Homo sapiens: one gene and its partners. The main gene of each other region encodes a partner of the protein of the gene in region 2 in a complex. Each region holds a gene or a part of one and is shown on either strand. Other genes may lie near its edges. A codon is read from its position in the direction of its gene.

Evidence for each region.
Region 1: the proteins of CIC (region 2) and ATXN1 are in contact, whole or in part, in an NMR structure (PDB 2M41), measured with the Homo sapiens proteins. Residues at the interface, in NP_001291744.1 of Homo sapiens: Val943, Phe944, Pro945, Trp946, His947, Ser948, Leu949, Val950, Pro951, Phe952, Leu953, Ala954, Ser956, Gln957; in NP_000323.2 of Homo sapiens: Pro572, Tyr573, Phe574, Ser578, Ile579, Ile580, Gln581, Leu582, Ala583, Leu587, Val590, Leu593, Phe598, Ser601, Ala602, Leu608, Asp611, Ser613, Phe631, Val633, Ala638, Gln639, Val640, Val642, Tyr648, Pro649, Phe650, Phe651, Trp657, Ile683.
Region 3: the proteins of CIC (region 2) and YWHAQ are in contact, whole or in part, in a crystal structure (PDB 6KZG), measured with the Homo sapiens proteins. Residues at the interface, in NP_001291744.1 of Homo sapiens: Arg1207, Ser1208, Met1209, Ser1210, Glu1211, Thr1212, Gly1213, Thr1214; in NP_006817.1 of Homo sapiens: Lys49 (codon at 2,311), Arg56 (codon at 2,290), Lys120, Arg127, Tyr128, Gly169, Leu172, Asn173, Val176, Tyr179, Glu180, Leu216, Ile217, Leu220, Asp223, Asn224, Leu227, Trp228.

Annotation. Positions count from the first base shown.
Region 1 is NC_000006.12:16,748,645-16,760,756, reverse strand, and holds part of ATXN1 (ataxin-1), read left to right. Parts: intron 1-572; exon of another isoform or gene 573-700; intron 701-6,665; exon of another isoform or gene 6,666-6,714; intron 6,715-7,409; 5' UTR 7,410-7,524; intron 7,525-12,112. UniProt on the Homo sapiens protein: Chromatin-binding factor that repress Notch signaling in the absence of Notch intracellular domain by acting as a CBF1 corepressor. Binds to the HEY promoter and might assist, along with NCOR2, RBPJ-mediated repression. Binds RNA in vitro.
Region 2 is NC_000019.10:42,292,192-42,296,948, forward strand, and holds the end of CIC (protein capicua homolog), read left to right. Parts: coding exon 1-16; intron 17-108; coding exon 109-275; intron 276-374; coding exon 375-668; intron 669-764; coding exon 765-1,090; intron 1,091-1,400; coding exon 1,401-1,645; intron 1,646-1,743; coding exon 1,744-1,898; intron 1,899-1,981; coding exon 1,982-2,113; intron 2,114-2,412; coding exon 2,413-2,544; intron 2,545-2,632; coding exon 2,633-3,000; 3' UTR 3,001-3,605; downstream 3,606-4,757. UniProt on the Homo sapiens protein: Transcriptional repressor which plays a role in development of the central nervous system (CNS). In concert with ATXN1 and ATXN1L, involved in brain development.
Region 3 is NC_000002.12:9,627,998-9,641,042, forward strand, and holds the start of YWHAQ (14-3-3 protein theta), read right to left. Parts: upstream 3,001-13,045; 5' UTR 2,944-3,000; intron 2,538-2,943; 5' UTR 2,456-2,537; coding exon 2,162-2,455; intron 1-2,161. UniProt on the Homo sapiens protein: Adapter protein implicated in the regulation of a large spectrum of both general and specialized signaling pathways. Binds to a large number of partners, usually by recognition of a phosphoserine or phosphothreonine motif.

The DNA of each region.
Region 1 (12,112 bases), on a different chromosome or scaffold from region 2:
GGGCGGTGAGAGAGAGGGGGTCTCACGGAGGGCTGGACTTCTCCGCGGGTGGTCGCCCGGCCTCGGCGCCCTGGGGCGGGGGTCTCCCCTCGGAGGGCCGGCCTCGCCGGGTGTGCGGCTGCGGGCGGGGAAGGGACTGCTCCTGCAGCCGGGACGGGACTTTGCGCGCGGCCGGGTGCCGGGCGGGGGGCGCAGAGGGGTGGCCTCGGGGACCGCGCGGGGGTAGCGGGTGTGCGGGTGCCTGGAGCGCGGCTGGAGTGGCGGTGACGGCCCTGGCCGCCGCCGCCACCGCCGCCCTGTTGGTGCGGCCGCTTCCTGATCATGTGCAGCGGCAGCCGCCGCCCGGAGCCGGGAGCCCGCGAGCGCCCCAGTCCGGGCCGGCGCCCCCGCCAGCACCCGCGGCAGGAGACGAGGAGCCGCGGCAGGCGCTGCCCTGAGCCGGGAGTGAACGGCTGCGCGGCTGCTGGGAGGGTGAATGAAGCCAGGAGGAGGGGAAGGAGGAGGAGGCGGCGGCCGCCGCGGAGGAGGCGCTGCGGGGATTGGGATGCGCCCTGGAGCCCCACTGCTCGTTCACTCTGGGCCGGGCCGGAGACTCTGCCACTCCCGGGGGCGCCGCCGCCTCCTCCTACGTGGTTCCAGTGCTGCGCGCAGGCCGGTCCCGCAGGGGGCAGGGAAGGGGGCCGGACGGGCGGAGCGAGAGGTGAGGCGGTGTCGGAGCGCGGCGTGAGTGTGAGTGAGTGTGTGAGTGACTGTGTGTGTGTATTTGTGCGCGCGCGCGCCGGGCGGGGGGCGAGGGCCGTCGCGACGCGGAGGGGGCCCTTCCTTGGCTACTTGGCTGACTCTGCAGCGCCCCGACCCCTCTTCAGCCCCCCGCCTTCAGGCTGCCTTCTTAAACTCCGTGGCTTGTGCTTTCATTTTGTTTCAGACCACGTAGGGGGCTGACTGAAAGGGATGAAACAATTCAGGTTTTCTAGGGAGATTGAGCAAGAACCTTAGTGGGGGTGGAAGTAGGGTGGTGATCGAGACTCTGCCAGAAAACAAAACAAAACAAAAAAAAATCCGTTTCTAAGGACGGCGGGGATTCGGTTCGAGCCCGTGGCTGCTCTGTTTTGTTTTGCTTTCTTGGTATATAATCCTACAGATAAAAGGGTAATATAAATATTTGAGAAGAGGGAAATTGCTGAAGAGTAGTAAGGGCAAAAAAAAAAAAAAAAAAAAAAAAAAAACAGTCGGAAGAAGCTGGTTATATAATGCGCGATGTGGCTAACAAGAAAGGCAAGCTATTTTTATTTTGTTTACCGTATGCTGTGCAGTAGGGACTCCTCCAAACTGGTTCTGTCCCCGAAGAGATTCTTAGCTTCCCTGCGAGATCCACAGGATACAATTAGCAAAATTAGAAGACCCTATTACACCCACAGAATAAAAACTAATGCCTTACAGTGGCTTTCTCCCTGCACATCCTGTCGTGCATGCACGGGAATGTGTGTATGCAAATAAGTTCTCCTTTGGCAATCTAGTAGTCACATCTCAATGACATTTGTGTTTTATAATGCAGGCTGTTTTTAATATTTAAACATCATTGTTATATATTGCACACAGCAGTGGGTAGTTACTTGGTTATTTTTAGGCACAGCTAGTTACTTTTTCAACAGTGTTAGCTGAGACATTTCTGTTTGGGTTTTTTAGGAGGCTGCAGTTCCTAGAAGCCCCCCTTAAGCCCACCCTTCGGTTTATTTGATGGGTAAAGGTAGTTTGATACTTGAGCTTTTTTTGGAGTGAAGCTTATGTCTGAGGAAACCACCAGAGAGAAGAGAAAATCCTGCACAGGAACTCTTGGAAAGGGATTGCACCATAACGGCTAGCGCTGTGGCATTTAATCTCCTCTGATTGCCCTCTCACTGTGCATGCATCAGTCAATATTTTAGCAGCTCCGCAAATAAATGGACTTGAATGCCATCTTCTACATAAAGCAGAGGTTGAAGGGCTCCCCTGAACCTCCTGGCTGCCTGTCAGTGGTGTAGGTTTTCGGTGCACTTACTCCAGTCCTGATCACTCATGTAATTAGATCAGGCTGCCATGGCAACAGACAGTGTTCCTCGTCCATTCAGGTGGGTTTGTCTTGTGCCTGAACTACTCCAAGTGTTTTATGCACAGCATTTATGCTGCCCAAGCCAGACGAGAGACTCCACTATTTCAATTGCATCTTCTTTCAGTCATTTGGATGGGAGACACTGAATGAGGCTTCTAGCTACTCAACTTTTATAAAGGAGACCAACAAGCTGTTCTTCCTAGGTGCAGTATGTAAATGCATCTCCCCAGACAGTGAAAGGAGCCTGACAATCCTGCTGGTGTTTATTGTGAACAGATCAACAAGTATTTGGTACTTGTTAGAAACCTTTCAGAGCTCACTAAAGCAACATTTCTTTTGCAGTCTGGTGCCTTTGGCCTTGCAGTCAGTCACTTAACCCTTTCAAGTGTGAAGAGCGTTCATCATTTGGAACCTCCATTGCCCATAGCGATGGCTGGATTTCTAAAGGGTTTACTCAGGGGAATAACTTATTCGGAAAATATATTCCCATTGTCACATTTTAAAACTTGACAGCCATCATAACAAAAACTGGTACTGACAGTAGGCAGACATTCTGAATGTATTCATTCTTAATTTGGATCTATTGGCTGTGATTTGAATGATCTTTGGTAGTAAGTTAAAAGGATTTTTTTTTCCTTAGCTAAGCGAGAAACGATAGAGGCCTATAGCTAGAGGACTGATAGTGCATGGTGCTTTTGGACAATAAACATGTACTTTATTTTAGGATGTAATTTAGTGAGCAGTTAGAAAGCAGTATTCTAGTCTTTGCATTAGGGCACCACTGATAAAGCTGGCTAAGCAAAGAGAAATAATATTATGGCAAAAAGGAAAAAAGGAAAAGTTGCTTTAGTTGCTGAAGCTCTGTGCTGCTCAGGCAATCCAACTAAGTGGGGCAGGGGGCGGGCGGGGGGGAGTATTTTCATAACCCTGGTATTTGAAAGAAAAGATAATTGAGAATTATGTCTTGATTTAGTTGTGACTGCCAGTCAGTTTACAATTTTATGGCCAACAAAGCTAAACTGGTAAATTTTTTCCCCCAGGGCTAGGATTGAGAGAGCTACTCAACTCTATTCCCAGGGGGTTTATGAGTTTTTACCGTTTTGTGAGTTTATGTGGTTGGTAAATTCATTGTGGCCTGGTCAGATGAAGCACTGCTGTAGTTAAAATGAGCTATTATTTCTTCTAGCTACTCAACTTTTATAAGGTGGTAAATAGATGGGAAGCAAGGATGTCAATATTACACAATGCCTTGGAGGTCCTGGATTCTATTTTGCAACATATAGAAAAATGCTTTACTTGCAGTAAAATGTGAACATATATTTTTCAGTGCACAAATAAATTCATGTGAAAATAAGTATAAAAAAATGTACCTGGTGGGAACCGCCAAAGGCAATATTTTTCCTTGCGGATTTCGTTTTAAGAGGGTTTGGTAAACAGAAGTGACACTTTGTCAAAAATGTTACGACTAGACTTCAGGACTTCTGAATTGTCTTTTACACTTAGAGGAAGATTAAACAGAAACTCTTTAGCCACAAGATTACATGTCAAATGCCTGTAAGTTTCAACATACCTAAGTCAGTTGCCTAGGAGTCCTGGGAAAGGCCAGTGCTGAGATTATTGAAATATTAGTAAACATTACTATGACTCCTGTTTTTGTTGTCATTATGGAGTCCAAGGACGCACATTTCTTTGAATAATGTTGTGCCTTTATTGTTTTTCATTCTGAAATGTCAAGTGGATTTTACTTTTTTGCACATACCTTGAGTGACAGTTTCTGATGACTAACACTAACACTCATTTTGTTTCCTATTAAAAGTTAAGCAATAAACATATTTTACTAAAATTCTGAAACTCACGTAAGTAGGTAAATGTGGGAGTGAATGTTAATTCTTTAAACTGTAGTTATCTGAAAATAACACATAGATTAGGATCTGAACAGCTTAAATACTTGCATCGGTAAAGTGACAATAGTGAAGTAAGACAGGCTATTATTTTTAGGGGAGAGATAGATTATTTGACTTTCCTTGCTCTGTATTTTCAGAGTAATTCAATAGTTCGAATGATTAGTTTCTGTGAGAGATTTAGATCTGTGCAGCTTAATTGCTTCAAATAACAGATTTAGTTCTGGTCATACTTCCAAGGTTATCAGAAGCAGGCCCTCCTTATTTTGATAAAAGCATTGAAAGCAATACATTGTAGAAATGGTAATAGAAATAATAATTTCTGTTTTAGGACCTTACATATAGAACTTCCTTTTCTAAGATAAGAATTTTAAGTCATCAATTATGTTCACATTTTATTTTCATGTAATTTAGTTTAATAAAATAAATGTACTCATTCAAAATTTTTTTAAGAAGTGATATACAGTGTCAGTTTTACAGAATTTTTTAAATGTTGGCTGAAAGAACGGTAATTACATTGAGATTTTTAAAAATATATAAATGCTTAAAATTACAGAAGTAATAAAAAGAATGGTTTTAGACAAATCTTATGGAAAGTTTTTTATTTTATTCTTTTATAATTATATTTATGGATATTTGTCTTTATTAGTGTAGTAATATATTTTATAACGCTCATAATTTGAACTTTCAGGCTAATGTACTATAAATATTTGTATTACGCATTACTACCATCCCAAATGTACCAAAACACGTTTAGAGAGAACAATTATGGACAAAAAAGCAACAAGCATTATATTTTGTTTGACATATTTCATGTTAGCAGAAATGTTTCATTGATTTTTCTGTAACTTTTAATGCATCCCATTTGTGGAGTAATGAAAATGTAATGATAATTGCCACAATGTAAGCAAAAATTGTATCCTACCTGAAAATTACTTTCCAGAAAATTCATGGTAGTGTACTCAGAATTTGAGACTCAAGAGGGCAGAGGTTTCCCCGATTGTGATGTTTTGATTTGGGCTAAGAGGAACTCTTTTTTTTTTTTTTTACACTTAGGTGCCCTTTAACATGACAAGTTTTGAATGAGTTAGGTAGCAGAAGTTTTTCGTGACAGTTATTGTAGCTACTAACCTATAGCATCTATCCTTCTAACGTTCAAAGAAAATATATTTTTCTGTCACTGTGTATGGCAAACTTTATTTTCTTGTGCCCTTAATTTTGTTCCCCTTTCTCACATTATCTCCTGGTACTTACTGACCATTACCTCAGTTTTGTTTAGGCCGTCTTTCTTGTTAATCTTCCAATATTAATAGTATTGTATTATGTTGCTCTGCTGGGTTTTAAAAATATTGAGTATTCCATTTTTGGTGTATATTATTGTATAAAATGTCCTATAAATTATTTTCTGGTATATTATTTTGTAAGTTTTTGCAGTGAATACGTGCTGCCTTGCTTGTATTCTTGCCTTCTTCCCTCTGATGGAATACAAGTTATGTAAACTCTCTGTATTATCCTAACTAGTGCAGCAACACAAATACTTTTGAAATAAGAAAGCATACTCATGCAAGAGTAAAGTAATCTTCTATGGCATTTACATCATGTTTGACCCTCCTCTGCACTTCAGCAAACTAGGAGGAGGTTGTAACTTGGACTCTATAAAACCTTATCTGCCAGGTGATATGTAAACAGGATTGTGTGCACACACATTGTCATATAGGCAAACACTCTCCCAACTGGTGAGCTCATAAAAAGCACTGTCTGTAAATTTATGGTACCTGCACCTCATTTGAGAATCAAGTATTTTGATGCTTAATTTGAGATGACATCATGATCCTCCCTCCCTGCTTCCTCATCCTTAAAGAAGTACTAAGATTAAATAGAATTTTGTCAACTTCTACTTAACTTGGCCATTATTTATATTTGTAACTCAACAGGCTTCTTGGTGGAGGGACTGTGCCTTCTAAAGATCTGAAAGACCTTATAGTGTATAACAGCTTACCTTCCTTCTCTGTACGCACAGATCACATGTGGGGAAACCAAGGACTACAAGAATTCCTTCTTTTGCATATCAGTCCTCGGCAGGCAATCAATGCTTAAATAAATGCTTGGTGAATGGATTAGTTAGAAGTAAGAACATTTTGGCTACTGTTCATTACTTTGAAAAGTGCTGGAAAGAAGTGGAAGTTATTTTCCTTTCCAGCTGGGCTGTGCTCTTAAAAATAGTGAGTGTGTATGGATGAAAATAATCATGAGTACCGAGATGTGTTGCCATGTACCCAAGGATAATTGGCTCACTTACCTGTTTACGGATTATTCACATTGGAGATCATATTCATAGCTCCAGAATAGTTTCTTTCTGACATCCAATATAAACCTGGGCCTCCTTCTTCCTACTGTTACCTGGCGTGAGCTTAGGAAACCCAAACTAAGTTTAAAATCAGCCTAAGCAAATGTGCAGATCAGCTCCAGTAATCAAAGACTGAAAATCAGTCCAGCATTCACTAGTTTGGGGATGATTTTATAGTAACCCTGCTACTGATTTTAAAAAAATTTTTTTTTCTGTTTAATGTGGATAATTGGTAATTACCGGTATTTAAGAATATAATTTTAATGGATAGGGCTAAAAAAATACGTTAGCAGATCGAGTCCTCAACTTCTTCCGTTTCTATGCATAGGTTTTACCTCACAAAAACTACTACAAGCACCAAGCTCCCTGATGGAAAGGTATATGGAAGATTCATTCATTCTTTCTTTCATTCATCCATTCACACATTCACTCATTCATCATACAATGGAAAATTTTTACTTAACCATGTGCAAGGAATTGTGGCAAAATGAAAATGAGATGTACATTCAGTATTTAAATAAAGTTTAGTGGAAAGTTTAGTGAATATAAATGCACACTTTACACTTTTTTTCTGCATTTTTTCCTTTCTTCTATTCCATTGGACTGGTATGCTAATAGCTGTGCACTTTCATCATTGTGTTTCAAGTTGCATGTTGATAGATAATATATGCCACATTAAAATTAGGCTTTGGCTCAATTACTATTCAATCCATGCCCATTTTCACCTGATACTCCTTGTAGTTACCAGCATGTGTTTATCAGATGATTGGCTAGAATCATTGGAGAAAAGAATGACAGCGGCTGGCTCAAATGGGGAGACCATCCTCTTAATTTGATGGAAGGGATGACCTTTTTGTATGTTGGCCTCCCTCTGAGCCTTGTTGAGTAAAACCAGACCTGCCTTTTGAGCTGGCTGGGATCTGTGTAATTCTCATACAACAGAATGCCGAATGTGATGTTCTTAAAATTTGTATTTCGGTGCATAGACACTTAAGGTGGACTTATTTTTTAAAGCAGTCTATTCTGTTTTTCATTTTGGATTTCCTCTCCTGCACTCCCTCGACCATTGCAGGAGCATCGTGCATCAAGTCACCAGGGTGGTCCATTCAAGCTGCAGATTTGTTTGTCATCCTTGTACAGCAATCTCCTCCTCCACTGCCACTACAGGGAAGTGCATCACATGTCAGGTGAGAGTTTTGCGATGCTCTCTGTTTTCCATCTGAGGATAAAGTCCTGACCTGGAAAATTGCCTCCTAGCCATGCTCCCTTACTTTGTTGGCTGTTGAATATCATTTTCTTTGCAAACTCTGTTTGGGCATAGTGTGGGAAGTTGAGAAATTGCCAAGATTGTTTTTTAAAACTTCGATTAAAGTATCTATCTATTTGGTTTAATCTATATGTTCATGAAGACTTTCATTTGACTTTGCGATGATTGATAATTGCCAATTGGGGCTTGAACCTCATCATTTTAATTGTCAGTTTTCCTTAATACAATTAAGAATGCTATGCTACCAGATATCTTAAGTCACAGTTTTTGCATTTTAGATTACTGTTGTAGTATAATATGTGCGTAGCAAAACAGAGACCTATTTGTTTAGGGGAACCAGTATTTGTTGAATCTTGAATTTCTTTGTGTCTGTTTGGATTTTACAACTTCCTGATTTTCCCACGTACAGTAAGTTTTTCTGGCCTGGAGAGTCATGCAGACATAGGGTGTATGCAATGGTGATGACTCATGGTTCTCTATTGAAGAAAGGGCCAGAGGATATTGCCTCAAATTAAATCAGGAAGGAAAAAGAGGTTTGCTAGAACTTGGGGCAGTAAGGGCTTGGGAACACAAGGGTTTGAGTGTATGTAACCAAGGGAGATTGTGAAATAGAAAATAGGGGATCAATTTCTATTTGCCTTGGAAATGGACCTGCTTGAAACTGTGAAGACAGACTAGATTAGAGGTTCCCAAGCCTGGCTAGGCAACAGAATCACCTGGAGAGCTTAAAAAAATAGAATTTGGAGCTCCACCCTAGACTTGATGAATCAGAATGTTTCCTGCTGGAATCATTGATCTGTCTAGGCACTGATGCTCCACAGGTTTGGGAACCCCTGGGTCGGCCGGTCTTCCAGCAACTCTTCCTAAGTTATGTTCTGTAGACTTAGTTGGTGAGAAGCTCATTCTACTTTTAGCAAATCTCCCATTTGAAAATTTGAATTTTCAAAACTCATTTTTCAAGAGGTAGATGGATATTTGCTTTATAACAGGTTCATTTAAACAATAATTGACCAGATTTCTTTGAAGAAAGAGCTGCCTCTTTACCGTAAGAGCCAATTTTTAAGTTACATATAAATTCTCTGGCATCTTAGATAAGAGCATGGAGCTCCGTAATCAACCCATCTGGACTTAAGATCTGGAGCTGCCACTATGACCTTGAGTAGTCCTATGTCCTTTCAATGCCTCAGTTTATTCATGTATAAGATGGAGGTAATATTAGAACTTTCTTATAGGGCTGCTGTGAGGATGGACTGGAGTAAAATAGTAGATATACTGTGGGTAGAATAGTACCTGGTGTATGGTTTGTATCTTTTAACAGATGCTATCAAGTAACTTATCCCTCAACAGGTTGATTGTTATGGTCATGTTTTATGATGGTTGCTCCTGAACCATACATGACTAGAAATATGTAAATATACCTGGACCTTGGTCTTTGGACCCACCCTGTAGACATCTACGGCTCTGCAAAGCCAAGGAGCCTTTTATTTGTTTTTGCTGAATTTTAAATTCTGAATTTATCACAACTCTCTGACTGATGGGATGCATGTGTGGTTTTTTTTTTTTTAGATTGTTGTAAAATGAACTGATGAATTGCATGCATAAATGTGGTTATTTGTGGTCTGAGTAAAAATAAACAAAAACCTGAGTGACTGAAGTATTATGCCTCAGGAAAAACAGCCAAAAAAGTCCCAGTGGGGGACAAGGTGGAGGAGGGAAGAGTCATCACAGACACGATACTCTTGTAAAATATGGAACTGGATTCCTTACATTTTATTGGCTGTGGATTAGAGAGGTGTTCTTTAAGTGGAAATGTAACCTAAAGTTACATGCAAAGGTAAGCCTCTTAAGATCTACAAGTGTCAGCTGAATGAAAAAGGTAGGGTGGGCCAGGCACAGTGGCTCATGCCTTTAATCCCAGCACTTTGGGAGGCTGAGGTGGGTGAATCACTTGAGGTCAGGAGTTTGAGACCAGCCTGGCCAACATGATGAAATCCTGTCTCTACTAAAAATATAAAAATTAGCCAGGCATTGTGGCAGGTTCCTGTAATCCCAGCTACTTGGGACACTGAGGCAGGAGAATCGCTTGAATCCTGGAGGCAGAGGTTGCAGTGAGCCCAGGTCTCGCCACTGCACTCCAGCCTGGGCGACAGAGTGAGACTCCATCTCAAAAAAAAAAAAAAAAAAGAGAGGAAAGAAAAGAAAAAGGTAGAGTGTCTTACTGCTACTTTATCTCTTAGGGATGATACTCATTTTAACGGTTATGTGCTAGGCTGAAAATCCTCACATTTAGATCTTTGGGGAAATAGTTTAATTGCAAATGGGTTGAGTACACGTGCATTTTTTTTAACCTGTGGTGTTGAAAGGGAGTCATTTGTGATAACAGAAATATCTCAAGAATTTTATTGTGAAAAAACAGGCAGCAAAAAGTCATATCTCTTGGTCAATATGGGCAGCTTATTGAGAAGAGACCTAGGTTTTTATAATATGTTAGGCAAGTTTAAGTGTCTTATGAATACTAAAATACTGACGAAGTAGCGCAAAGTCACCTTGAATTTTAAGCGCTGACATTTTCTATGATTGCATTTAAAGAAAGCTTATAAGCATTATCTAAACATTTTGCATCAATAATGGCCTCATTACAGTCCTCACGATTGACGGCTCAACGTAGGCAGAAAAATAGTATCATTCATGTTGTACTCTTTTATATTCATTCAGTTTTTTTCTTAAACCTACATTATAGTTCTTTCTGGTTCTAGTTATTTTATAAATATGATACAGCTATAGCAAGTTATGACCTAACTTGTTCACAGTCACTATTTATGTAAAGAAATGATTCATTCATTTATTCATTGTGAATTTTTTTAAAACTACTGCATGGTGCTGTGGGAATGGAAGTGAATAAGAGCTACCGGAAGGCAGTTATTTTCTTCCTGGTCAGGCAGGGGAAAGAAGAAACTCTCTGAAATAATGAATACGAATAGAATGGGGTTCTAACAGTGTTCTAACAGTGAAGGAATTCAGAAGAGTGACGCTGAGTAGGAGTGATCAGGAAAGACTTTGAGGAGGAGGGATCACTTGAGTTGAGCTCTGCTGACTAGATTGCATTTCTGTGGGAAGAGATGGATGGAGCATGAGGAAGGCCATGTGTGTGTCTGGGACATAACAAGCCAATGCACGGTATGTAACTGACCAGGACATTTTGACTGAAGCCTAGGTGCTGGTGGACATCTGAATTTCTGGATTCGAGCAGACAGTAGAGAGTATGGGAATAAAACTGCCGAGAGGTCAAGTCTGAAGATAAATTTGGAGGAGTCCTTGGCATAAAAGTGATCTTTGAAATTGGGTTCTTGGGCCTGGCAAAAAGTTTGACACCCAGGAGGGGGATGACTGAATTCAGGGATGACGTCAGCTGGTGTAGAATGTGTAGAGAGAAGGTAAGAGGCAGCGGAGAGTAGCTTCAACATTGATGTGGCATGGCCTTCGTCTGCCTTCTTTTCATGATCTGGGGTGAAGGAGGCTGGGTGGCTGGAGGAGTTGGGTGATGTATGCGTGGGCCATAAGGACTCTTCTGCAGCTCAGGCACCTTGGAAACTCAGTGCTGAACTACAGTTCAATGAAATCTTGTCAAAACCTCTCTTCCTTTAAGACCTTTAAAAAAATAGGAACTTGAGCTAATTTTAGCTAAATCTAATGTGTGTGTGTATAAAAATGAATGCTGCGTTTGAAATTCAGCGTATGCGGTATCTCGTTAAACAAATGATCCTTCTATTTTCCTCTAAACAGTTTTATTAAGATTTTCAGTGAAGCCCTGTACGTTTTAACAACAATTCCAGCATTTCTTTGATCTTTTCTACCGTTGATTTATTCATCTCACATGATATGCGTAAATCACAATGTGCCATCTACTTGACTCTGTAGCAATTGTTCATTTGTGGCAATTCATTTACTGTACTTTGATAAACCACATTAATTTGGGTGTGTTTTGTAACTTTAGAGGATTCCCTGGAGGCTTTCTGCAGACTCTTTAAAATGTGAGATGTGTGTGTTTTTGTGCGTGCGTGTATACTGTATATACCTAGCTACTAGACACAGCTCTTTGAACAATTTGGCTTCCCATTTATACTTTATAGAAAATAAAGAGATATAGAATTGGTGAATCTTGGGTCTGGGGAGAAAGTTAGTCTAAGACTTCCTGATGTAAAGTGAAAGAGAAGGCTGGAGATGATGTTACGATGATGTTAGTGAGCAGTCTGATTTAATGTAATGAGAGAAAATTTGAGGATTAAGTTGTGGTTTTTTTTTTTGGTGCTGAGTTAGTTAGGATGGGCTCTCTGTGTAGCCCAAAAGGGCTCAGAATAAAAGCAGTGACTTATTTAACTTTCATCAAAGACAAGAAGGTTAAGACAGGAACAAGAGGGATGGAGCAAACAACTCCAGGGGCAGATCGTTCTTGTCTGCAATTATTTAATGAGCATCTAATGTATGAGACGCATTATGCCAACAAGGCC
Region 2 (4,757 bases):
TGCCCTCCTCCACCAGGTAATTGCAGCTGAGCCCATACTCAGAGGCCAGGGAAGGGGTGGGGCGGGGCCGGCTTACCTCACTCCTCCCCATTTCCTCTCCTGCGGCAGAATCACCTATGTGCAGTCAGCGGGCGGGCACGCGCTGCCCCTGGGTACCAGCCCTGCGTCCAGCCAGGCTGGAACAGTCACCTCGTACGGGCCCACGAGCTCTGTAGCTCTAGGCTTCACCTCGCTGGGGCCCAGCGGCCCCGCCTTCGTGCAGCCCCTGCTCTCAGGTGAGGGGCGGCCTGGCAGGCAGTGCTGGGGACCCAGGGTGGGGCTGAGGCAGTCCGGGCCCTAACTTGGTCTCCTGCTTCTTCTTCTCTGTCTTTCAGCAGGCCAAGCCCCACTGCTGGCTCCCGGTCAGGTGGGCGTGTCACCTGTGCCCAGTCCCCAGCTGCCGCCTGCCTGTGCAGCCCCCGGAGGTCCTGTCATAACAGCATTTTACTCTGGCAGCCCTGCACCCACCTCCTCAGCACCCCTGGCCCAGCCATCCCAGGCCCCCCCAAGCCTGGTCTACACTGTGGCCACCAGCACAACCCCACCTGCAGCCACCATTCTGCCCAAGGGCCCGCCAGCCCCTGCCACTGCCACCCCAGCCCCGACTAGCCCTTTCCCCAGCGCCACAGGTAGGTGTCAGATCAACCCAGAGCAGAGTGAGTTGGGGGACCCAGGGGATGGGCTCCAGTCAGGCCTGGCTCAGCAAACAATTTTCTCCCCACTAGCAGGTTCCATGACCTACAGCTTAGTGGCCCCCAAGGCCCAGCGGCCCAGCCCGAAGGCCCCCCAGAAAGTGAAGGCAGCCATCGCCAGCATTCCCGTGGGGTCCTTTGAGGCAGGTGCCTCTGGGCGGCCTGGCCCTGCACCCCGGCAGCCTCTGGAGCCTGGCCCAGTCCGAGAGCCAACTGCCCCAGAGTCTGAGCTTGAGGGGCAGCCCACACCACCAGCCCCTCCACCCCTGCCAGAGACCTGGACTCCCACGGCCCGGAGCAGCCCCCCACTGCCCCCACCTGCTGAGGAGCGGACCAGCGCCAAGGGCCCTGAGACCATGGTGAGCGCCTGCAGGCCGTGGGGCTCCCACTGCCACTTGGCTGTGCCTCTCCATTGACGTCTTTGCTTTTCTGTCCTACTCTTCTTTCCATGCCTGTGTGTCTCTCAGGTTAAAGGGTCCCCTCTGTCCCTTCTGCCTGCCTGTGTTGTCTCCTCTCCCATCTGAGGCCCCTGTCTTGGCCTTCCTGAGGCCGTGTGACAGCCTTCTCAAGGGGTCTGCTGGGCGGGCTCAGATCCAACTCTTTGTTTCTGGCCTTTGCCCCAGAGTCTGAGCTCAGTGTTCGCCATCTCCCTGCCCATCTCCACCCCAGGCCAGCAAATTCCCCAGCTCATCTTCAGACTGGCGCGTCCCTGGGCAGGGCCTGGAGAATCGTGGGGAGCCTCCCACTCCTCCCAGCCCGGCCCCAGCTCCAGCTGTAGCCCCTGGTGGCAGCAGCGAGAGCAGCAGTGGGCGGGCAGCCGGGGACACCCCGGAGCGCAAGGAGGCGGCTGGTACTGGCAAGAAGGTGAAGGTGCGGCCCCCGCCCCTGAAGAAGACCTTTGACTCTGTGGACAAGTGAGCATGGGCTGGGGCCTTGGTGGAGCGTGTTAGGGTGGCGGGAGTGGGAGCAGCTGCAGGCTGAGGCGGGGGAGGTGACCCTGCCGGCCCTCCAGCAGGGTCCTGTCAGAAGTGGACTTCGAAGAGCGCTTTGCTGAGTTGCCTGAGTTTCGGCCTGAGGAGGTGCTGCCCTCCCCCACCCTGCAGTCTCTGGCCACCTCACCCCGGGCCATCCTGGGCTCTTACCGCAAGAAGAGGAAGAACTCCACGGGTAGGCGAGCATTGGGCACCCAGGGTCCTTAGGTGGAGGGCAGACTGGGGCCACCTGCACTGAGTCTGCTTCTGTTTGGCCAGACCTGGATTCAGCACCCGAGGACCCCACCTCGCCCAAGCGCAAGATGAGAAGACGCTCCAGCTGCAGCTCGGAGCCCAACACCCCCAAGAGTGCCAAGTGCGAGGGGGACATCTTCACCTTTGACCGTACAGGTGCCGTGGTGGGCAGAACTTTGGGGGCCTGGGGACCTGCAAGAGGAGTGGGTCTCTGGAAGGCGGTTAGAGAGTGAGAGAGGTAGGGTGGGTCCATCCAGGCTGGGAGGAAGCACAGCCTGTCAGTGGTGGGTTCTGGAGTCTGGCAGGCCCCTAGGTTGCCCTGTGACTGTGGGCAGGACCCCTCTCTGACTCCCCTGTGAAATAGAATGCAGTGAGGGCTTGGGTGGGCACTCAGACGGTGGCAGGAAGGCCCTGCCGCTGCTGCAGCCTTGCCATGCTGCCTGTGCCCTGCACAGGTACAGAAGCCGAGGACGTGCTTGGGGAGCTAGAGTATGACAAGGTGCCATACTCCTCCCTGCGGCGCACCCTGGACCAGCGCCGGGCCCTGGTCATGCAGCTCTTTCAGGACCATGGCTTCTTCCCGTCAGGTGAGCCTGTCTCGGAGTCTTGGGGTCACTCGGGTGGGACTTATCTGTACATCTCATCCTGTGCTCCCCACCGTTTTTCTATCTCCAGCCCAGGCCACAGCCGCCTTCCAGGCCCGCTATGCAGACATCTTTCCCTCCAAGGTTTGTCTGCAGTTGAAGATCCGTGAGGTGCGCCAGAAGATCATGCAGGCTGCCACTCCCACGGAGCAGCCCCCTGGAGCTGAGGCTCCTCTCCCTGTACCGCCCCCCACTGGCACCGCTGCTGCCCCTGCCCCCACTCCCAGCCCCGCAGGGGGCCCTGACCCCACCTCACCCAGCTCGGACTCTGGCACGGCCCAGGCTGCCCCGCCACTGCCTCCACCCCCAGAGTCGGGGCCTGGACAGCCTGGCTGGGAGGGGGCTCCCCAGCCCTCCCCCCCACCCCCAGGTCCCTCCACAGCTGCCACAGGCAGGTGAGGGACCCCTGAGAAGATGCCAGGACTTATAGTACCCCCTCAGGACATGGACAGTATGTGGGGGCAGGAAGGTTATCTCCTCCCGGGTAAAGCCATTTCGTCCTCTCCAGTTTGGGGCGGAATGAGGCCTGCTCCTCTTGTAAATACCCCCTTCCCTCGAAGCTCCCTCCCGGTGCTGGGGGGCAGCTGAGGGGCTGCAGGGGCAGTCTCCCTCCTCCAAGCCCCTGTACATAACCTGGAGCGTGTGACCTTCAGAGCTTTTCACTTTATGCAAAATGGCTCCTGTGAGGGCTGCAAGCTGGAGGGTGGTGCAGGCCTTGGGCCACAGGGAGGCGCCTGTGGAATAGGGGGAGTTCATGCACCCCTTTTTTCCCCAGAGGGGCTGGACTCAGGTTAGTTTGGGGGTGGGGGCTCCTGCACTTTGCCACAGGCACGGGGAGGGTTTTCTCCTCACCCCCTCTGCCCTCCCAACTTGGGTTGTACTTTCTAAGAAGGTGATTCCCCCTGCCCTTGCCCCCTTCCCCAGAACAAAACATGTTGATCATGTGCAATATTTCTTACTGTGCCGAGAAGCCGCAATGAGCGAGATTAAAGCTGTTTAACACACCTGTGTGGCTGTAGGCTCTTAACAGGGAGGGCTGTTGGTTGTACCAGTCCTGTCCTGAGTTGTCATGGAGCGGTAGGCTTTCCATGAGGTGGGGGCAACAATTCCAGTACCACTGCCCCCAACTTCAGAGGAACCCCATAGGCCAGGTCCCTGACTTGCTGTGGACCAGATGGCCCCTCTCCAGTTTAGGAGCCTGTGCGCTCCGGGAGCCTCAATGCCTGCTGGCCCTGTTCTCAGCCATTGGACTGCGTGAGTTTGGGGAAGGCCTGAGGCAAGATGCCACTGGATGGTTTACCCTCACTGGCTCTGGGGTCATTCGTACTCAGGAAACAGGTCCCAAGAGGTCCTAGCCCAGAGGTGGCAGTGGGTGGGAGGGAGCCTAGTCTACCTGGAATACCCTTGGTCCTCAGTGTGACCCCTGCTGCCCCCATGTGGCCTGGGCCTGCACTGCAACTGGGCTTGAAGGAACCTCCCCTGGGTGACACCCCTCCTGCTCAGCATGTGGACACAGTGCCCACCTGAGGTGACAAGATACCTACACCCTGTGTGGAGGGATGACAACTAGGAGTGGGAGGGTCAGGACACCTCCACAGAAGTGGCATCTAAGCTAGAGATGGAGCACCAGGAAGTTCCAGCCAGGGCAACCGCATATGCACTGGGTCACTATGTTCCCAGAATTCTTGCCTGAGCTTGGTCCTGTAGGATAGTGCTGGAAAGCTGGTCTTAACTAGTGTTTACTGATTGGTAACGCCTGCCTGAAGCACACTATTGTGATAGTGGAAATTAACCTAACCACAAGAATCACAGTGCCTTAATGGATCAGTGATACCTGCCCTGGGCAGAAATAGAACCACAGCCAGGCATGGTGGCTCATGTCTGTAATGCCAGCACCCTGGGAGGCCGAGGCAGGTGGATTGCTTGAGCTCAGGAGTCAGATCAGCCTGGGCAACATGGCAAAACCACTTCTCTACAAAAAATACAATAAGCTGGACCTAGTGGCACATGCTTATAGTAGCAGCTATTCAGGAGGCTGAGGTGGGTGGATCACTTGAGCCTGGGAGGTTGAAGTTGCAGTGGGCTGTGGTCTCACCACTGTACTCTAGCCTGGGTGACGGAGAGAGACCCTGTCTCACACAAAAAACACCTTGCAG
Region 3 (13,045 bases), on a different chromosome or scaffold from region 2:
TGGTATTTATGTTTGTGTATCTCTCACATGCTCTCTAAATTATAAATCATCAGAGGGCAAAATCCACGGTTCTGTTTTGTTCCTCCCCATATTGCTCAGAGCACAGTGCCTGGCACACAGAAAGCTCTCAATACAGTTGCCAACTTGAAGAAGTGCTTTCCCAAGATATTTTTTATAGGTTGGCCACCAAGCCCCAGTTAGCCTCTTAAGCCATTTTATGAATATTTCATTTATGCCTTGGTGTCTCGGATTCATCAAACTAAACTATTCTATGTCTTCTCAGTATATAAAAGAGACTGTCCTAAATTCAGGGGTTGTCCCCATTGAAATGGTCTGTATGAAAGTTCTATTCTAATAACACCTGGTCTCTCTCTCAAGCTACGTATCAACTAAGCAAAACTCTTCCCCGACTTACGCCATCATAAAAAGCAGAATTTATAAGAGCCACAAAATAAAACGAATATTCCTTTGGCTCAGAGTCACCTTGCTCGAGAACAAGAAAAATCACGCGGTGATTCTGAATTGCTTCAAGGTAACTAATTGAAAAGCAATAAACTGAACAGAAATGAAATATGCTGTAAGAGTATCCAAAATACATACATAGAAAACCTTAACATATGGAATTCTTATGAGTCTTCCCTTGGTAACAGATAATGCTGTTAACAGCCATTACCATATGTTACTCAAGTTGAAGTCTACCACTACTTTCAAGTTGGCAAAATTTTTTAATACGAGCAATTCAGTCCAAAAAGCTTTTACAAGTGCTTCTTCAATGCCAAGCAGGGACTGGAAGCTAAGAGCACACGGAAGAATACAACGAAGTTTTGACTTCATAAAGTAAATAATCTTAAGTTTTCTCCACTTTAGTACACACTGTCTGCATTACTTTCTTTGCCTCTTTACCAGTTATTTCCATCAGCCATGATTTTGTCCGGATCGCCTGTCATCGTATTAGAAAAATAGATAGGTTAAAAAAGTTTCGTGGATTTTTTTTTTTTAAACAAGGGGTGGGGAACATATTCCCTGCCCCACCATTCTGATGAGATGAAGAAAGGCGGCTTGGGGGGTGGGGGTGGGGGAGGAGGCCAGGGAGAAATTATTTCTTCCATTCCCTTTTGAAAAATCCCCAGTCTAGTATGCTTGTCTATCAAAGCCCACCTAAAATATGATGTGCACAAACACATCAAAAATAAGTAGGCCTCTTGTAAAAGTGACACTTAAAAGGCAAACCATATGAGATTATTTCCCATTTTATTCATAGAAATGACTCTTGGCAGCACTGAAACATTTAAAAACACTCCTGGATATAATGCTGGTATTTCAGTTTTAAAAACTTATCCTACGGATCAAAAGATCCATGGAATGACAAAGCTAAAAATGTTCTCTCTCACTAATAAGGGTGAATCACAGCAGCCACCTACTCCACCCAACAATCGTCCTTGCTAAGACTGGACAGTTCAAAACCTGGAAAGCTTTCCTTGTCTGCTCCACACTGGAAACGAATTCACTTCAACACTAGTGTTTAAGCACAGGTGTGCAACAGCAAGGAAATGTTATTAAATGTTGAAATTTACCAGGACATTGTGTTCTTCAGATACAGCTGTGTCCTTTTCACATTTCCCGAACTCCCCTCCTCTCCTGTTTATGGGGGGTGGGGGGGAGCACAACAGATACTCTTACTTGAAAAATAAAGTATCTGTTCAGATTTTCTAAGTAAATTTCCATTACTGGGTTTGGGAAAAAATCCCTACTACATTGTCTGTAACAAAAAGGTGCCTGCGCCTTCTTTCAACTGCCTGAAGCTTGTGAACCGACTGAATACATTTAAAGGGCTCACAGATCTCAGGACGCAGTCTCCCCGCACAAGAAACTTAAAAACGCCTTTCAGTCTCGCAGAGACCTACTTGGATGTTTCCAAGTTCCATCGTTTGGTAGCTACCCAGCATCTGGGGCGAAAAAAAAGGACTTATCCTTGGAAAAGCGGCTTCTTGAGTCTCAACAACCGGAGGGACACAGTAGGGAAGTCAGGGCTCACCTAAAACCCTCCACCCCAGCAGACAGTCCGGCAAGCCCCGGCTCACGTTTGTTTCCGTGCCCGCGAAACTCTCAATGAAAAGCATCTCACAAAAGGCCTCCCCTGCTCCCCGCGCCGAGGACTCACCAGCACCGTGGTGCAGATGGATCTCAGCTCGGACTCCACTTTCTCCCGATAGTCCTTAATCAGCTGCAACTTCTTGTCGGAGGTGTCGGTCTTCTGCTCGATGCTAGAGATGACCCTCCAGGCGGACCTGCGGCCCCCGACCACGTTCTTGTAGGCCACGGAGAGCAGGTTGCGCTCCTCGTTGGACAGCTCGGCGCCCTGCTCGGTCACTGCCTTCATGCAGGTGGCCATGTCGTCGTAGCGCTCGGCCTGCTCGGCCAGCTTGGCCTTCTGGATCAGCTCAGTCTTCTCCATGGCGGGCGCGGGGCCGGGGCCGGGGCGGAGGGCGAGGAGAGCGAGGGCGAGCGCCGACCCGCAGCGGGAGGAGCCTCGAGAGCTGCGGAGGGGCGGGGCGGCGAGGCGAGAACAAAAAGCAGAGAGGGAGCGCCGTCAGACAATGCGGCCCGCCGCCCGCTTTTGTCTCCCGCACACGCGGCCGCTTGAATTTCCCTCTCCCCCGCCCCCTCCCCCGCTGGGCACCCGGGGAGGCCGCGGCCCGCGGCTGGAGGAGGCGGGGGCGGCGCGGAGGCCCCGCGCGCAGGGAGCCCGAGCCGCGGCCGCTCCCGCCACCCCCGCCCGGCCGGCCCAAGATGGAAGCGACCGTTGGCCCCGCACCTTCCCGCCCGGAGCCGTCCCTGAGGGGAGCGGCATCGACAACCGGCTGCTCTCAAGGGCGGCACCTCCGCCCGGCCCTCAATCCGAGCGCGGCCGGAGGAAGCCCGCGGGCCGACCCAGGCGCTCACCTTCACGTCTCCGCGGCCGCGACGCGAGTCCCACCACTTTGATCTGCTTTTGGCTTTAGCTGAGGACCCTCCCGTGTCAGCCTACCCCGGGGCCGAGGGGCGGTCCACCGCCCAATGATGCGCCGAGCTTCTCCCGAGAGTCCCGCCCCCAGCGCGCCGCTGGCCAATGAGGACCGAGCGCGCGGAAGGGGGCGAGGGGGGCGGAGCGGGAGGGAACGCGGAGGCTAGGAGGGTGGGTCGGTACGGGGAAGTTCGGTTGGCCGGCAGGCTGCGGCTTCGGCCACGGGGTTTCCTCCAATTAGATCCAGGGTAAAAGGACGTCACTGTTGCCATGGCGATGCCGTTACCAACTCCCCTCAGCCTCCCCGCCACCCCGGCACTTCTGGGTGCGGCACGAGACCCAGAGGCGCGCACGACCTCCTAGGCGGCGGCTGCGTCTCCCGCTGCGGATGGTGCATTGCATCTCACGGGCTCTGGCCGAGGCTGGACTTCGGAGGGTGACATATTCAGCTGTTTTAGAGCACGGGGGCCTTTCTTTCCTCCACCTTTCTATCCGTGACAAAGGTTTGGATCCCAAGACACTAAACCCAGACCTTAATGACGTTGCCATTAGGGCTCCGAATTAAGCAAACCGCATCCCCATTAAAGAAGAATTGATTCTGGAGACGGTGTCTTCAGTATGGCATTTACATGATAAATTCAAGTTTTCAGATGGGCATCCTAAAACAAAAAATTCCCTTGTGAAAAGGTAGGTCCCAGAAGATCCAGGGGAGTTTCTGTGACAATGCCAAGTATTGTGGTTTTCTTTAAAATGAGAAATGACATTAAGCACAATTTGCAGGAAAACACCTATTACTACCCCTTCCCACCCCCGCAAAAAAAAACCCTGCCCATAACATCTCTCCCCGCAAAAAAAAAGCAATTTTTATGTATCTTTTAGGCTTTCCAGGTTATGCACCTAAATACATCATTTTTCACATCGTTGTCACATGTGCACACGCTTTTGTTTCTGGTATTATTTGTGAGAGGTCACTTGAAAAGCTGAAATCCTCTCCCTGGATGTTGATTTCTGATTTTCTCCTCCTGGGGAACACCCTGCTGAAGCGAGAAAGATTCCCCCAGGCCCCTCCCATTCAGGGTCATCCCTGGCAGCTCCCTTTCCTCTTAAACCACTCCTGTCTCTCCTTGCACTTCCCCAGTTCCCTAACTCCATCCAGGTAGGGTGGCTGCCCTGCCCGTCTGGCGCGTGGTCCCTGTGCCATCTTAAGATGAGAATTGCCCTCTGGGTTCACGCTGCTATGATCCCGATTCCAGCAGGTCTAAGGAGAATGGATCATAAAGAATTTCCCATTCTGAGTGGAGACTGGAGCAAATCCGGAGAATCTCTAGAATGGGAGATTTGAGAGTGCAGACAGATGGGAGGAGAAGGTGCCGACTTTCCAGAAATTCAGACTCCCTCTTGACTGCCCCTCCCTGTCCTGACTTGTGAAGGTTGCTTTGTGCTTTGACAGACAGGAGCGGCCTGGATTGGAAAGGGCCTGTGTCTTAATGCAGAAATGCCTTACTATGTTCCAGCCTTCTAATGGAGGGCCCTGCTGTTATTTCTGGAATCCCTGGGGCCCCGCTACAGACACATGAGTGTTTATGGCCCTGTGGGCTGGGGTGGAGCTGGACACCGAGAAATCCCAATGGAAAGAATTTGCATGTGGAAGGTCAGATAAAATGCCTTCTGTATGACCAGTGAATTTCAAGCTCACCAAAATTAGAGGCAACCCGGGCAAGGGGAGAAGCCAGTGGAGGTGGATGGGGGATAGAGACCCAGGAGAGGAAATTGTCAGGGGATGGAACCTCTGTGGTAGAGAGGGACTACCAGAAGGAGCAAGCACACTAAATTCTTTGTCAGAAAGTCTAGGCTGTGCTGTGGTCTCCCCCAGTGACCTTGGGCAAGTTTTTGCTGCTTTCTGTACCTTAGTCTCTGAAATTTCTGCTTTCATTCAATCAAATATTTATTGAACACCAACTCATCTAGTTGCAATCATCTGGAATCATGGGTAAAAACTGCTTCCAACCAATAACACAGTATAAAATTGCATTTTAGGAAGATTCAGAGGACCCTCTACATAGCTAAAGGCTTCTGTGCCTGAAAGAACTCGGGTTGGAGAGAAACAAGGCTCTGGGAACTTGAAGTCCCTGGACACAGAAAGAGCTAACCTGTGTTGAGTGATTGCATATGTCAAGCACTATTTTAAGTCTTTTGCAAGAATTAACTTATCCAATCTGCTTAATGCAACTACAAAGTAGGTGTTATTATACTCACTATCTCTATTTCACAGACAAGGAAATTAAGGCACAGGGTGGTCAAGCATGACGTACAGGGCCACACAGCTAGAGAGCGGCAGAACCTTGGATATGGACCCCATGCAGTTTGGGTGCCAAAGCCCATCTTTTTAACCACTGCTGAGGCTGCCTCACCAAGTCTCCCCAGATCTCTGCTAGATGCTGTAGAGATCCTAGGATGGATCAGACCAGCCTCTGTCTTCTAGGAGCTTCACCCTAATAAATGTGAAACCTGTTAAGCATCACATCCAACATACTGGGAAGAAGTGCAAGGAACAGACAGCTAGCAAAGGGAGTACTGAGAAATTATTACTTTATTTATGAAGTTCTTATTATTTTTTCTAAGTTACCTGGTATGAAGAAGCTCCTGGAACAAAAAGGAGCACATTAACATGGAGCCAGAAGACCCTAAATTCAGCCCTGCTATTTATATGTGATTTGACCTTGGATACCTTGATCTTCTCTGAAACTCAATTCTCTCTACCTGTAATCTATAAAAATAATCCCAGCTGGGCACAGTGGCTCATGTCTGTAATCCCAACACTTTGGGAGGTCGGGGTGGGTGGATTGCTTGAGCCCAAGAGTTCCAGACCAGTGTAGGCAACATGTCAAAAACCTGTCTCTACAAAAAACATAAAAATTAGCTGGGTGTGATGGCGTATGCGTGTAGTCCCAGCTACCCGGGAGGCTGAACATGGGAGGATCGCCTGAGGCCAGAAGGTCGAGGCTGGCATGAGCCATGATTGCACCACTGCACTCCAGCCTAGGCAACAGAGTGAGACCCTGTCTCAAAAATCATCATCATCATCGCTACATCAAAGAGTTGTTTGGAGATTAGATGAGCTGTCACATAGGGAAATGCTGAGCATATAGCAAGTGTTCCATAAGTAGTGTTTTCTTCTTTCCTTCTTTCCCTCTGCTTGGAGGTGGGGTACGGCGCTGGCAGGATGCTATCCTGCTGCAAGGAGCCTTAGAACTTTATTAAATGTTTAGTGAAAGCTTATCTCTTGAATCATTGTTGTAATTAGTGCAGTTAATGGTCTACAGAATGGCTACATTCCATGTACATTTCAGAATGAATGAGTCCTTCAGGTTAAGCTCACTCTCATAAATCGTTTCAGTGATTTATTTGCTCAGACCAGTGGATCACCAGAAACTTCTTCCTTTCCTGCCATATGGCAGCTAGTTTAGTGACAAGCAAACATCTGAGTGGGACTTTTCACCCAAACTCTTCATATAATTATTATTGGTGCTTCTGTGCAGTGGGCAGAGAAAGTTGCCCCCCAACTCTGGCCTGTGGGTGCTAAATGAGGTTTCGTAGAGTCACACACAGGCAGGGAAATCAAGGGAGCCTGGTCAAGAAAGTTTTTCTACATATTCCTTAGTTTGAAACTTGATTCACTTTGTTCAGGGTGATGGTTAGTTGCATGTGTCAACTTGGTGGGTCACAATGCCCAGATACTTAGTCAAACACTATTCTGGGTGTTTCTTTGAGGGTGTAACATTTAAATCGGTGGGCTTTGTTGTTGGTGGTGTTTTTTTTGGTTTTGTTTTTTGAGACAGAGTCTCGCTCTGTCACCCAGGCTGGAGTGCAGTGGTGTGATCTTGGCTCACTGCAGCCTCCACCTCCCTGGTTCAAGCGATTCTCCTGCCTCAGCCTCCCGAGTGGCTGGAATTATAGGCGTGAACCACCACACCTGGATAATTTTTGTATTTTTAGTAGAGACAGGGTTTCATCACGTTGGCCAGGCTGGTCTTGAACTCCTGACCTCAAGTGATCCACCTGCCTCGGCCTCCCAAAGTGCTAGGATTACAGGCATGGGCCACTGTGCCTGGCCTAAATCGGTAGACTTTGAATAAGCAGTTTGCACTCCCTAATGTGGGTGGGCCTCATCAAATCAGAAACCTGAAAAGAACACACAAAGAGCATCCTTATTTGAGCAAGAGGGAATTCTCCAGCAGACTGCCTTCAGACTCCATCCGAAGCGCCGGCCCTTCCTGGGTCCCCCATAGATGCCTTTAGAACTAGAGAGGGAACGTGAGCTCTCCTGGGTCTACAGCCTGCTGGCCTGCAGGTTTTGAACTTGCCAGCATCCATAACTGTGTGAGCAGATTCCTTATAATAAATCTCTCTCTCTACACACGTACACATACATATAAATACATGTGTGTATTCTGTTGAATGCATTTAGTAACCTTTTTTTTTTTTACCCAACAAATGATATAGATATCTTTTTTTTTTTTTTTTAAATGGAGCCTCACTCTGTTGCCCAGGCTGGAGTGCAGTGGCATCATCTCGGCTCACTGCAACCTTTACTTCCCGGGTTCAAGCAATTCTTCTGCCTCAGCCTCCTAAGTAGCTGGGACTACAGGCACATGCCACCACGCCTGGCTAATTTTTGTATTTTTGGTAGAGATGGGGTTTCACCATGTTGGTCAGGCTGGTCTTGAACCCCTGACCTCAGGTGATCTGCCCACCTTGACTTCCCAAAGTGGCTGGGAATACAGGCGTTAGCCACCACGCCTGGCCAGATATGGATATCTTTTAATAGCTTTTAATGTATGTCTGCAACATATCAGTCTCTCTTCTCTCCCTTACCAGACCATGAGCCTCTTGAGGGTAAGGGTTTGTTTGTTTGATTGTTTGTTTGTTATCTTGTATTCGGTGAACGCTCAACAGCTGGGTAAACTTAGGTATTATAGTTCCCACTGGCTGACTAAACTGATGCTCAGAGAGGTTCAATTACCTATCCCAATTGGTAAACTTTAGAGTAAAGACTTAAAAACAGGTCTGTCTGATTTTTATCTTCTACTACAACAAACAAGAATCTGTGCTACCTGCAATGGAAGACAGAAGCTCCAGTGTTTGCTGGCCTGGGAACAATGTTTAGTTATTTGAGGTTGGTGGGTGGATGAATATGTATCTACCCCTGAGTCAGCAACTGATTTTATTTTCATACGGAAGGCTCTGTTTTTACGCTCGACACATCCAGCAGCGAAAGAGGTGCCTTCTTGTCCCTTGTCTGTTCCCTTTAATTGTCTACATGGTTCCCCTCCTCTCCCACTGCCACCATCAGACTGCTACCTCCCAGTGGGAGAAGTTACATCTGACCTCCATGTCCCTGGTGACTTTACTGGGCCACGGAAGGCATTCAGTGAAGGCTTGTTTGGAGAGTGGATCCAGACCATTCAGGACGCATTTCCAATAATGCTGACCATTGGCATTGTGTGCTTAGTATGTGCCCAACCATATGCAGAGTCACTAGAATAGTAAAGTCACAGAAGGAAAGCACGCAAGGCAGAGCTGTGTCTTCAGCAGATGTTCCGTAGATACAGGATTGCATCTGCTCGGAAGAATACACCCAGAACCTTCAAGCCAGAACAGAAGGTCCCTGAGCCATCAGAAAGCTGTCGCAAGATCACACACTGATGCTCACACATGCAAGACGTAGAGGAGTGTTCTCCAGGCCCTCACTCAGACTCAATTTCCTGCTAATTCATTCCACAAAATATTTAAAGATCTTCAACGTGCCAGATGCTGTCCTAAGGGCTGGGGTTTCCAGCATGATTAAGATACAGTCTGTGCTTAGAAGGAGCTTGACCGAGAGCACAGAGGTGGGTGCCTAACCTGGAGGTCAGCAAAGGCAGGGAAGATCCCCTTTCTCTTCAGTTGCAAGATGTTCAGTTACCAGGTTTCCTGGTCCACAGCAGTCTAGAAGTGGTTACTTAGAAGGTGGGAGCAGAATTAGTCCCGACACTTCATCTGAAATCTACTCCACATTTCCGCAGATGATTTTGAGTAGAGTAACAGCTAGGGCTTTGAGGAGCCCATATCTATGGTCTATGCAAGGCAATCAGTGGACAAGGCAGAGACAACAAACCCATAAAGAGCTCATGAAAAACCTGGAGAGGCCAGGGCCAGTTAGCATCGGGGTACATGGCCCATATATCCCAGGCAGGCCCTAGGTACGCAGCAATTAGCCTTAATCATCACAAAAAAAATGGTCATTATATTTCATATTTTTTGCTTCATATTATATGTAGACATATACCTTCTCTCTCTGTCTCTCTGGACATATATGAGAGTTGGGATTTTTTTAAGTTTTGGTACATAATCATCTCCCTAATTATGACTCATCTCCAGACAATTCGAGATAGTTGAAGAGATGAATGACCACAAAACAGCTAGAGAACAATGCACACAGGAGTTGATTGTGTGCTTCTCACAATAAGTGCTATGGGAGTTGAGAGAAGGGAAACATGAGTGTGGGCTCAGGCACCAGAAGGCTATGGAGTGAAAGGGACCCCTGTGGGGACAGCAACTGAGGTCATGCCAGTCTGTGTTTCCATCCTTCCTGCTGCCCAGTGGAGGGGCCCCTGGGAAAGGGGAGGAAGGCACAGGTGTTTCTGTTTGTGCTGGAATTGCTTTTGGACAGGGCTGACTCCCGAAAAGGTGGATCTGGATACAATGTCGGAATGTGACCAGCCAGGAGAGCTAGGCAGCCATGGTGCAGAGGACTCTTCTGCCTCTCCCCCTCCTGCCCTAACCAGCTCAGCACCAAGCACATGGGCACTTTAAAAGCACAGGCCATGCTGGGAGACTCACTGTGCTACCCTCAACCCCTTCAGCAGGAGCAGCTCTGTGAAAAGTGCAAGTGTGACCTTCATTTTGCTTTGTGACTTAAAACCCTTCACCGTTACTCAGCTGCAGCTCAGCATGGTGGTTGGACTCAGGAGCCAGATGACCTGGGTTCAAATCATGGCTGCACTACTCACAAGATATGTGACTTTGGGCAGGTCAGCTGGCCGCTCTGTGCCTCAGTTTCCCCATTTATAAAATGGGGATGATGGTAGTAAGAGTCCTACCCCGCAGGGTTGTTAGGAAGCTCCACGGAGGAAGGCTGGTGAGGAGCTCCCCCACTCCTCTCCTGTCTTCTCTCCTGGCTCCATTCCTTCTCTCTGCTTCAGCCTCTTCTGGGCTTTGCTCTGCTGCCATCTTCCCCTGGCTACCTGCTCATCTCTCAGGTCTTCAAGGAAATGGCACTTTCTCCATGGGGTGTTCTAGGGCTCTGAGCCCCTCTCAGCTAGGTGAGCTCCCCCATCCTGGATTCCCCAAGCAGGTAGTTACTTGATGTTGCTTCCCCTGGTCCACTTGTCCAATAGCTGAAGGTATCTCAGAGAGGGCGTGCTACGTCCATGTGATTTGCCTGTGTAGCCCCAGTGCCTAGCAGAGTGCTTGGCAGATACGCTGGGTGCCAAGAAAGCAATGGCCAAATGCACGAATTCACAAAGGATGGAAGGAGGAGTCCATAGGCCAGTGCACAGTGCCCAAAGGACAGAGCTGAGGCTGCTGGTCAGGACAGCTTCAGGCTCTGGCCAGGCTCCAGCACACAGCTGGAGGCACCCGTGACTCTAGCTGGGAGGGGCTGGAAGATCCAGGCAGCCCCTGACCGCCCTCCTTCCCCTTAGTCATGTCCAGTTCTGTAAACAAATTCTCAACTGCACCAGAAGGCCTGACAGTTAAGAGAACCCAGTGAAGAAACCTTTTGCAGAGAGAGAAAAGAACCCTTTTGAATGTGATCAATCACGCTGATTTATTTGGATGATTTCTCTTCTGGATTTCCTTAAACCAGGGAAAACCCAGGTAAGATATTTGGGGCCCTCATTCATCTAGACAAAATACATAAAAGTTTGTTATATCAAAAGTCACCTCTGGAAAAAAAAGGAGTTTTGCCAACCCACTCAGCTATTAATATGAGATGCTCTCTGCCTAGGGACAGCAATTGCTATAATTGATGCAAACGATCCCAGCCACACTCCCTGATCCTGGTTCTGAAACTCAGAGATGCAGCTGACCAGACTGATGTGGCCAGCCTCACTCTGAAGGATCCTGCAGCAGACAAATTGCTGGAATGTGTTCAGACGGAATCCAGCTGCTACAACCGTCACACAAACTTCCTGAAATAGAGGACAAAAGGTAGCAACTTGTCGCTTCTTGAGCCAAGAGATTTAGGACATGAGACCAAATGAGAGAGATTAAAATAAAAAACGCAAGAAGTTAGTGAAATGAGGATTTAGCTCACCAGGCCAAAGCAGGCAGTCTTGGGTCTTTGCTGGACAGTTGTAGCTGCCATATAAGCTGTCCCTGCCAGGGCTGGGATCTGGAGGCTGATGCTGAAACCTCGGCCTGGAAATGATGCTGATGAAGCAGGGCTCTGACAGCCCCTGCACTCTCAGAGGTCTGGGCAGCACAGATGAAATTATCACTCCAAGATCCTCAAAGCATCCAGGAAAAAAGCACATCTAGGAACATTAGCTGAATTTTGTAGAACACTAGTAAGCACCTAGTAGATGCTCAGAAAATGCATATTTTCCTTCCCTTTCCTGAATTCCAGGGGCCTTGCTTGGTCTGTATTAATTACTATATCAGAGTCCTTATTTGCAAGCGAAAGAAACCAACTCTAGTGGATTTGAATATAAGACTATTACTTCTTACTGATTGTGAGGAAGGCTGGTGAAGCAGGCTTATCGAATGAGCAGGCGCTGGGAGGGTGTGCAGCTAGAACCAATGGCCAAAATCACCCTGCAGACCTCTCCCAGGGAGATCCCTGTTGCTTCTGCCACTGAACAGCAGACATCAGACCATGCTGCACTGACTCCGTGGCACCAGGTCCTGGAACCTGGACGCCGACACGGTCCAGGACCCTCTACTCTCATTTGAAATCCATGACACTAAGCCTTGCTGCTGCCCCACAAAGGAATTCTCCACAGTCCCTGCTGCTTTGGGTCATTCACTCCAGATTCAAAATCCTGGCTGTGGTGTCTGGCCAGGTCCGAGTCACGTGCCACGCCAAGGTTCAAGATAAGCTAGGGGGAGTAAGTATCTGGAATGTACACCTTTCAAAGTGAAAAGTGGGCTCCACTTCCCACTAAGGTTCATAAAGCGGGGAATTCTTCCAACAAAGGAAGGGGCTTCAGAGGCTGGGCAGCCTGAAAATAGCACATCCCCTGCAGTTATACTTGGGTTTCCAGTCTACGTGGCAGAAAAAAAAAAGCAAAAGCCATGCATGGACAGTGTGCAAAAGCTGGAGCCTGGGAAAAGCCTTAGCCTGGATCTCATCTTTCTCTCTCTGGAAAAGGTTGGGGGAGCTTTGCTGTCATTGATGTCCCTACCTGGAAGGCTTTTCCCTCCCCAGACTTGCCCTCCTCCGTGACCCACAAAGATCTCTCTCTTGTTGAAGTTGCGATTCTACCTCTAGATTGCATCACACTTTTTAGAAATGAATTACTTCATTTATGTAGGTCTTGTCAAGCTCCCCCAGGATGAGGACAAAACTCGTATTCATTAAACAGTTAATAAACATTCACTGAGTGTCTGCTAGGCCTTGGGGAGACCTAGGGGACAAAGACATGGCCTGTGCCTTTGAGAAGAAGGTCACATCGGGTGCCAAGTGTGTGGAGGTGTGAAGGCTTTGCAGAGGAGATGACTTATTTAAATGGGTCTTAAGATGTTCCCAGCCATTGGTAGAGGGAGAGGTGCATCCCAGAGAGAAGGAACAGCATGTACAGGGCAAGGAGTCATGAGAAGGCGTGGCGATTTTGGAACAGATTTGTTGGGATATGGTGTGCATGTGGGCAGCAGGCAAGGAGGTGGGAGGTGAGGTTGTTGCTGAAGATTGGGACCACACGGCTGGGCACGGTGGCTCACGCTTGTAATCCCAGCACTTTGGGAGGCCGAGGTGGGTGGATCACGACGTCAGGAGTT